Linked DNA regions of Homo sapiens: region 2 is linked to region 1. Evidence: fine-mapped expression QTL. A gene starts in region 1. The other region holds a variant in brackets. All regions are shown on one strand. Distances are from middle to middle.

Region 1 (4,401 bases):
CAGGGTGAGCCCAGCCGGTGCTGCGGATCTAAACTGGGGGCAGCGGGCGAGAGCGGCAGCTGCTGGGGCAGGAGGCCACTGGGCTCCGGCAGTCCCTCGTGGGATTTGTCCAACAGCCCGACTGCGCGCCCTGGGGAACAACGTGTTCTCTGTGGGCAGGGTGCCAACAGGCGCTCGATGGGGAGCGAGGTGGGAGGGCTTCTCCTGAAGCACTCAAGATGAGCGAAAACCCCTTGAACCCAAGAAAGCCGCCCTCCCTGGCTCCAACCCTCACCCCGGCTCCCTAATGCGCACACTCTTGACGTCCTTTCCCTCTCTCTTCAGCCCTCTCCAGCCAGCGGGGGTCCCTGAGATTACAGCCACCTTCTCTCTACACGGTCACACGCACGCGTGTGTGCAGTCACTCACACCCACACACTGACACACAGAAACGCACACACACCACCCCAGAAACGCACACACACACTCACACTCGCTGGCCTTCCGCGTGCAGCACCCGAAAGGCATGAATATTCATTACTTACAAGCATTAGTGACTGCGAAGCTGTTTGCCACCTCCAAATTGTCGATGTGGGGTGTCAGTCTGAACTCCGAAGTGGAAAACTGAACCATCCCTACTCGAAATGCACTGTATTCTTGATCGGCGCCCCTAGGAAATAGCCCCCCTGCAAAGAACAAACAGCAAGCAAGAGAACAGTGTCAGTGCCCCGGGAGGGAAAGGAGGGGCGCGCGCTAGCGCCCAAAAATCCAAGAGTCTCTTATTCACGCGAATAGGCCGAATAAACACACCTACGGACTCGGACAGCGGGGGTGGAATATCCAAAAGCTAGCCAAGGGGTCAAGACCCAGATGAGAGTCTGAAGGCGAGGTAGGCGGCCAGAAACCTTCACCTTTCCATGTAATCACAAGCTTTGCATTCAGACCCCAAGAAAATCTGAGCAAACTGGAAAATGTCGCTAAGGCAGAATTAATAAAATTTGGGGATCCGAAATGAGAGGACCTTTTCTTCTATTGTATCAAAGGCATAGTCTTTTCCTTTTGCTTCATCCTAAGAAAAACATGTATATTCTAGGTAGTTTAAATCTGGAATGCAGTCAAGGTATGACATAAGTCTACATGACATGAATTAATTTGTACACTGTGAACAAAGATTACCACCAAATTATGCACAATTCAAAAGCATAGCACAAAGGGTACCTACCTATCTGTATGCTGTTAGAAGAGACACCAAAAATCAGTCCCCATAAAACAGGAGAAAGGAGGACAGAAATATGCATAATCTTTTGCATTTCCAAGAAAAGTAGAGCATCCACAATATACCCCTTTTTTTTTCCTTTTCCTCCTCTTCCTTCTTTGGCTGTTTTCCTCTGCAAATTAGATCCTCTGCATTTTGAGACAGCAATTTAGCACCAAGCTGCTAAAACCTGAAGTGGAGGCAGAAGAATCCCTATTTCCCAGGTCCTGCTGGTGGCTGCTGATGCCCTGCGCCCTGTCCCCGCTCCAGAAGTCCGGAGGACTGGCTGAATGCAGTTTTCAGCGGAGCTGCCGCTGTGGTCCCAGTGTCTCGGAATATTCAGCACCCTCCCATGCACTCACACACACTCACCCTCTCTCGCGCTCTCTTCTCCCTCTCTCCTCTCTCACTCACGCGCGCGCGCACACACACACACACACACACATACACACACGCACACACACAGGCAAGTCACAGAGAGGGGCAGGCAGTCCCGGGCGCGCGTGCGCGACTCGCGGCAGGAGGCGGGAGCGCGCGCCCCCTCCCCCGCACGGCGCCCGGCACCCCGCACCACCGTGGACGCGTCGCGTGCGCGGCGCTGAGAAAGCACAGCTCGGGGCCCGTAGCCGCTGTCCCTCCGCGAGACCTCGGGTCTCCGGGGCTGTCGCGCCCACCGCGCGCCTCGGCCTTTCAGCACCGAGGACAGCGCCTCGCTCCCCGCCCGGAGCTACCTTCGTGCGGCTGTTGCAGCTGCTGCGGAGATGCTCCAACCTGGACCAAATGCAGCAAAGCTGATCTCCGGCTGCTGTGTAGAAGCCGAATTGCTAATTGTTGGCGGCGAAGCGTCCTCTCACCAGGCCCTGCTGTCTTACGTTACAAATAATTTTGATTTTTATCTTCCATCTCCTGTGAAAACCCATTTAGCAATACAGAAGCCCTGTCATCCTCCTCACCTGACCCAGCCGAAAGCAAACAAGCAAGCAAAGCACCGTGGAGGAAATATTCCAAAATTGTGCACTTGGGCTTCATGGGATGTAGCCAGGATCCAGGGAGAACCCCAAGTTATATCTTTAAATGCTTAAGCCGCACAAGAGATCAAGATGGAATCTTTTAAATATTTTGCATGAAAATCCCATCTTTAGAGTATATTCCATTGGGCTGTGATGCTGACTCGCCTAGTTACAGAGCGCACGGGTCTTTCTCGCAGCTTTCACTGCAATCCCTCCCTTGTAGAGTCATGTAGACTTGGTTTCCTAGAAGCCCTTGCTTTATGCAGATTGAAAGCAAGAGACTCTGGTTTAAGGAAAGGCTATTAGAGGAAAGTGATTAGAAGATGAAGCTAGTGTAGGAATGCCACAGAGATGCAGATTCTTTCCCAGAGACTTACTTAGAAATCTGTTTCCCCATCGCGTTTTGGCCGGGGGTTTCGAAAAATCACTGCCTAAAGAAAGTAAGCCACCACGCTCTACTGAACACGCGGGCCACAGGGAAAGAAAGATGAGGTTAGATATTAAAAGTTTGAAGGGAGAGAATTGATGGCGAGATGGATGACTGGACTTCCCGTGTGAAATTTATGTTCTTCATGGTGCTTTTTCCAAGCTCATTCCTGGAAACCTGCTCTGACAATTCCCTCTGCGGACTCAGAAAAGCCCCACCAAGTTGCATGTCTTTACTGGTTTAAACAAATAAAGAAAGATTGAGAACAAGGAACTGTTTCCAGGAAGAGGGAGATTGGAGCTTACAGTACTAAAAAGAGAACTGCTAGTATTCCAAAATGCCATGAGTCTATCAGGCTGCCTTCTTGTGCTTGCAGCTTCATTGCTGACTGGATTATCTTATGCTTGCTTCTTAATCACATTGGCCTCAATTTCCCCATTTTAAAAATGATGATGAGCAAAGTGGCTTCTATGGCTCTTGGATCCTATATTGCTGTCATTTCAAATTATAACCTTTCCCTCTTTTTGATGTAGTCCTAAACCATGAAGTGAGAATAGCTGTAATCTATTATTAAGCTTATAAACTATAGACTAAAATATCTCTTAATTTTATGCCTTAGAATTTTATTAGTATGTTATAAGTACTCCACACTGTATATAAAGCAGGTCTTCTAAATAAAAATGTATTTAACCTTTAAAAAATTGAATAATAAAAATAATATATAAAATTAATTAAAATTACAATAAATCGATAAAAAATAAAAAATGAGATATAACTTACATATATTCAAAATTGCAACATAAAGAATAAATAAATCATACATATTTAATCATTATTTGTGATGTAAGGTATACAAAATGATTGGAAATTATTACCTATTTAAAATTTTTAATGTAAAAGCACTAAGAACAGAGCAAAATTTAAAATACCTCTGTAGTTATTTTTTTCTCGATTCACTTGTTTCCACAGGAAAACTTTAATTTCATAGAAAGTAACTTAGAATTAAAGAGAGCGAGGACAGAGAGAGAGGAAGCTTCAATATGAAAAAAATTTGATGTTTAAAATGTGAGTTCAGGTGAATTGAATTTTAAAAAATAAGAATGTTTTCAAACTATTTTCATCTTAACCTATTTCAAAGTCAAGGGCAGATATGAACTCAAAATTGACTGAGTTACATTCTATAAAAAACAAATGCTGTAAAAATAAGAATTTGCTGAATCATAGAGTATAGTAACTAATATGTAAGAGCTCAAGAAAAATATTACTGTCTAGTGGCCAATTACAATTTATATATAAGGTGGAAATAAAAATTTTAGCAAGCATTACTTGTAATTCAACTGCTATTCTATGTATCTATGTTCACAAGGTAGTTATGTATAGACCTTTCACATATTTGGAAACTTATTTCCTATATCAGCATAATTTTATTAATATTATCACTCATGAGACTTTTTCAAATTTCTTATAATGTTTTAATAGCATGTATGTTTCAAGCACAGAATCCTGTCAATATAAGGGTAATAAATTTAAATTGACTACAGTAAATGGTTCTTTATACAAATACATGGAAAAATACTGGAATTTATTTTGTGAATGTACACGGCTCTATTTTTTCATGTAGCAACTTCCTATTTCAAGAATATGTATTTCAAATTGATCACCAATCAATTTTGAAAACTTCAAAACTACTAGATCTACAGTTGACTAGAATAGTGTGCTACAAGAAACAG
Region 2 (4,401 bases), 700 kb before region 1:
AGATAGTTTGTGTGTTTGTTTGAAGGGGGTTTGCTTACAAAAATGAAAACAGAAAGGTCGGTTAAAGCACAAGTGCAGTCATTCAGGCAAAAGATGGTCATGATTTGGACTAAATGGTAATAGGTAAGCTTATGAGAATTTGTTAAATTCATATGTATCTTGAAGGTAAAGATAACAGATTTATTGATCAATGAAAAGAATAGATTATGAAATTAGACTATTAATGAAGACTTAATTTTTGCTCACTGAATGTGTAGATGTCAATTCCATTAACTAAGATGGGAAATATCAGGTGGGAGGGAAATAAGTTGGGAAAAGTAGGAAATAAAGGGTCTTTGCTTGGAAAATGTTAAGTTTGGCATGCCCATTGGATATCCAAGTGGAGAGTTTAAGAAGATAATTAAAAATAAATGTTTGGTGCTCAGGGCGAGGTGAGGACTAAATCAATAAATTTGGCATCATCAGGATATGGATAAAATTTAGGCCCGGCGCGGTGGCTCACGCCTGTAATCCCAGTACTTTTGGAGGCCAAGGCGGGCGGATCATGATTTCAGAAGATTGAGACCATCCTGGCTAGCACGGTGAAACCCTGTCTGTACTAAAAAAATACAAAAAATTAGCCAGGCTTTGGTGACGGGCTGTAGTCCCAGCTGCTCCGGAGGCTGAGGTAGGAGAATGGCGTGAACCTGGGAGGCGGCGCTTGCAGTGAGCCGAGATTGCGCCGCTGCACTCCAGCCTGGGCTACACAGAGAGACTTCGTCTCAAAAAAAAAAAAAAAAAAAAAAAAAAAATTAAAGCTTTTTAAAGCTAAAGGGCTGAATGAGTTCGTCACCTTGGAAAATAGTAGTCATTCTGATTTACTTGTTACATCTCAAACATTCCATGCTTTCTCATACCTCCACCATTATAGGCAGTTAGGTAATAGTTTTCTCTGAAAAATACAGCTAATCTTTCACATCTTACCCAAGTCTTCCCTCTGTAGTAAAACTTTTCCTGATGACCTGTAAAGAGTTTCGGAGTGATTAAAACATTTATTCCAACCATCCATTCATCCATTCATCCATTCAACTAGTGGATGTTGGATAGCTAATCTATGCTACAGAGTTTGCTAAACATTTGGGGTTGCCATGGTAAATACAATATACTGTATCTCTGTCTTTTGGAATTGTTTGTCTTCATACATCTTCTGGAGCCATATTTCTCTAATGTTGAGTTGTAACATTGTGGGCCATTAAAACAATTTCCTAAGTTTTGGTTAGCTTGAAGAAAAGAGATAGAAAAAATAAAATAGAGGATATCATATCATGCATAACAATAGTAAATAATGCTTTATGAATTATTTTTTATCCTGATGCAGGTATCTACAATATTGAAACAATGTTTTATTTTTATTTTTATTTTTTATGGAGAGTGTTCAAAAAAGTTGGAAAGACATTGTAGGAAACCACTTACCACTTTGTAAGTCTCTCTCTCTCCATTTGACTGAACTCTGTGGGGGAAAGAGCCCAGTCTTCTTACAGCCTTATTACATTTGAATCCTCAGCATGTAGCTCCTGATGTGGATCAGGTAAGCAAGAAATGTTTGTGGGAAAAGACGGTGGGAGGGAGAGAAATCACAGAAAGTGGGGCATTACAAGCAAGCAGCACTTAGTACCACTGAAAGTTGGCCTCTGGGGAGTCATGAGTGATTAACCAAGCATTGGGGTTCTCTGCATTGTGATTGGAGGGTAAGTACAGGGCAACTCCAGAAATAAATAGATTTTGCAATTGCTGTACAACAGAATGAAATAATACCTACACATCAAATCAAATGAAAGTCTTCTTAATGTCTGGTACTGTATTGGTTGTTATAAAAAACTGACCTTTTGTTTTATAATACCAATTCTATTTGGTTTGAAAAATAAATAAATATTAAGTCATTGTTACTTGCTTCATATCTAATTTATTGATGTAAAATTTTGTCCTCTGTGCCAATGTGCATCTCTGATTTGTAGATAACTTCTTTATTCTTGGTAATAATTAACAGCCTTAGGAGAAAGAAGTCTGTGCTTAAATGGAATGCTTGATCTCAGAAAATGGAAAGAATTTCAAGACTCTGATTACTTTATG[A/T]CAAAGACATTTTACTGCCAGGAAAAATGGTAAAAAGCTTTTACTTTGATTTAGTCCTTGTTTTTCAATTCTTCCATTAAATTCAAATTTTATGTAATAGACCGTAAATATCCATTTTTAAAATTTAATATTTTTTACATAAAATATTTATTTCCTATGTCTTTGAACTGGAATAGAATTTGTGCATGCTGTTTTAATTTAAATACCATCATGACCATAATCTGAACATGTAGAAAAATATTTCTAGACCTCTTTGTTTAGTTTACTATTTTATTAAGAACTTTTCTAAACAAAATGTTCTTATTTTTACAAGTTTCTCAAAACAGAAGGGTAGAATTTTAAAAGCTCTGAATATAAGAGGGCTTTGATAATGTTTTGATTAAGGAAGGAAAGAGGGAAGAAATAAAAAAAGGAAAAAAAGAGGGTAAGAAAGGAAACTAAAGAAAGGAGTTAAGGGAAGAATAATGAAAAAAATGTATTTAACATCTACGTCTTGCTATAAGGTTAGATTCCCACTTCTTCCAACTTTTTCTCCCTTTTTTCTTTCAGATTATGGTCATAATGATATTTTAAACCAAACAACATTAATAATAATAATAAAGTTTTACCTGGAAACAGAAATAGAAAACACCATAAAAAAGCATGGTCCTGCAGCCACACAGTTCAATCCTATGAAGGTATTCAAATTAAATTCTAGAGTATGAAAACCTTTTTTAAAATCAAATTATAGAGCAAACTACTCTTTAAAAAACAGATTAGACCAGGTGCGGTGGCTTACGCCTGTAATCCCAGCACTTTGGGAGGCTGAGGCAGGTAGATCACGAGGTCAGGAGATCAAGACCCATCCTGGCCAACATGGTGAAACCTCATCCCTACTAAAATACAAAAAATTAGCAGAGCGTGGTGGCACATGCCTGTAGTCCCAGCTACTCGGGGGGCTGAGGCAGGGGAATTGGCTGAACTTGAGAGGTGGAGGTTGCAGTGAGCCGAGATTGCGCCACTGCGCTCCAACCTGGCGACAGAGCAAGACTCTGTCTCAAAAACAAAAAACAAAACAAAACAAAACAAAACAAAATTAAAAAAAAACAGATTATATGTAGCCACATGCCCAGCAGAGTTGACAATGTGGCGTATACTTGCAGTAAAGTACAAATGTGTTGGGGAAAGAAAATTGTATTTTCATAGATTGTTTCTAAGAAGAACATTATTTTCTTTTGGCCAAAAACCCTGAAGGCAGGAAGGGAAACGGAGTGAACTGCATGCGGAGATGAAATAGGAGTGGGAAGTTTCAGACGAATAAAAATCAAGCTGAAATCCCTTTCCACTCTCCCTCCTCACACACATTTTCTATATGGTTACTAAATTCATAACATGTTTGGCACACTGATTAGCATATGGTAGCACTCAATGAATGTTAGATATTATGTTGAATGGATTGAAACTGATGGAGTTGAGGCAACACTCTTGAAGAGATACATAAATGTGGGAAGCTGACCAACAGTCTCCAAAAGACATCCACATCCTAATCCCTGTTATCTGGCAGAGGGAAATTAGGGTTCTACATGGAATTATAGTTGCTAATCTGCTTTTTTTTTTCAATGAAAAGAATATCTTATATTATCCAGGTAGGCCCAATGTAATCACAAGGGTCTTAAAAGTGAAAGAGGAAAGCTGAAGAGAAGGTCAAGGTGATGTGATGTGAGATAGACTTAATGCACTTTTACTTACTTGGAAGTTGGAGAAAATGGCTAGGAGCTGAAGAATGCGAGCTTGGTCTAGAAGCTGGAAAAGGCCAGTGAATGGATGGATTCTCTTATAGCGACTCCAGAAAGCAACACAAGCCTGCTGAAACCCTGATTTTAGCCCATTAGGACCTGTACCAGACTTTTGACCTGCAGAACTATAAGATAACACACTCCATGTGAATTTAAGCCACTGACTCTGCGTTAAATTTTCACAGCAATAAAAAACTAATATAATGAGTAAGCAAACTTACAGGGATCTGCAGAAATGATTTTGCTAGTGATGTTTAGGAAAAGTGCAAACAGATCTCAGAAGAGATTGTGAAGATCTCATTTAATGGTTTACATTCTTTTTTTTTTTTTTTTGAGATGGTGTTTCACTCTTGTTCCCCAGGCTGGAGTGCAATGGCACAGTCTTGGCTCACTGCAACCTCTGCCTCCCAGGTTCAAGCAATTCTCCTGCCTCAGCCTCCCAAGTAGCTGGGATCACAGACACTGGCCACCACGCCTGACTTATTTTTTGTATTTTTAGTAGAGACGGGGTTTCACT

Which allele goes with the higher level. Positions count from the first base shown, and alleles are read on the strand shown. Sizes are in standard deviations (SD) of each study's normalised expression.
With allele T in place of A in region 2, the expression in aorta of the gene that starts at base 1,604 in region 1 is lower (moderate effect, 0.57 SD a copy in GTEx).

Evidence for each region. PIP is the estimated chance that this variant, and not a neighbour inherited with it, causes the effect.
Region 2: its variant is the best candidate, but not a certain one, in a credible set for the expression of GRIA2 in aorta (GTEx, PIP 0.75).

Annotation. Positions count from the first base shown.
Region 1 is chr4:157,217,931-157,222,331 of GRCh38, reverse strand. It overlaps GRIA2 (glutamate ionotropic receptor AMPA type subunit 2), which reads right to left and starts at 1,604. Exons shown (of 16, transcript NM_001083619.3): 1 at 1,202-1,604; 2 at 525-665. The coding sequence starts at 1,289.
Region 2 is chr4:157,915,909-157,920,309 of GRCh38, reverse strand. All of the region lies in intron 3 of LOC105377509 (a long non-coding RNA gene), which reads left to right. Among named protein-coding and RNA genes, the nearest start is that of GASK1B-AS1, 250 kb to the left of the region's middle. The variant A/T (reference allele first, on the strand shown) is at 2,110.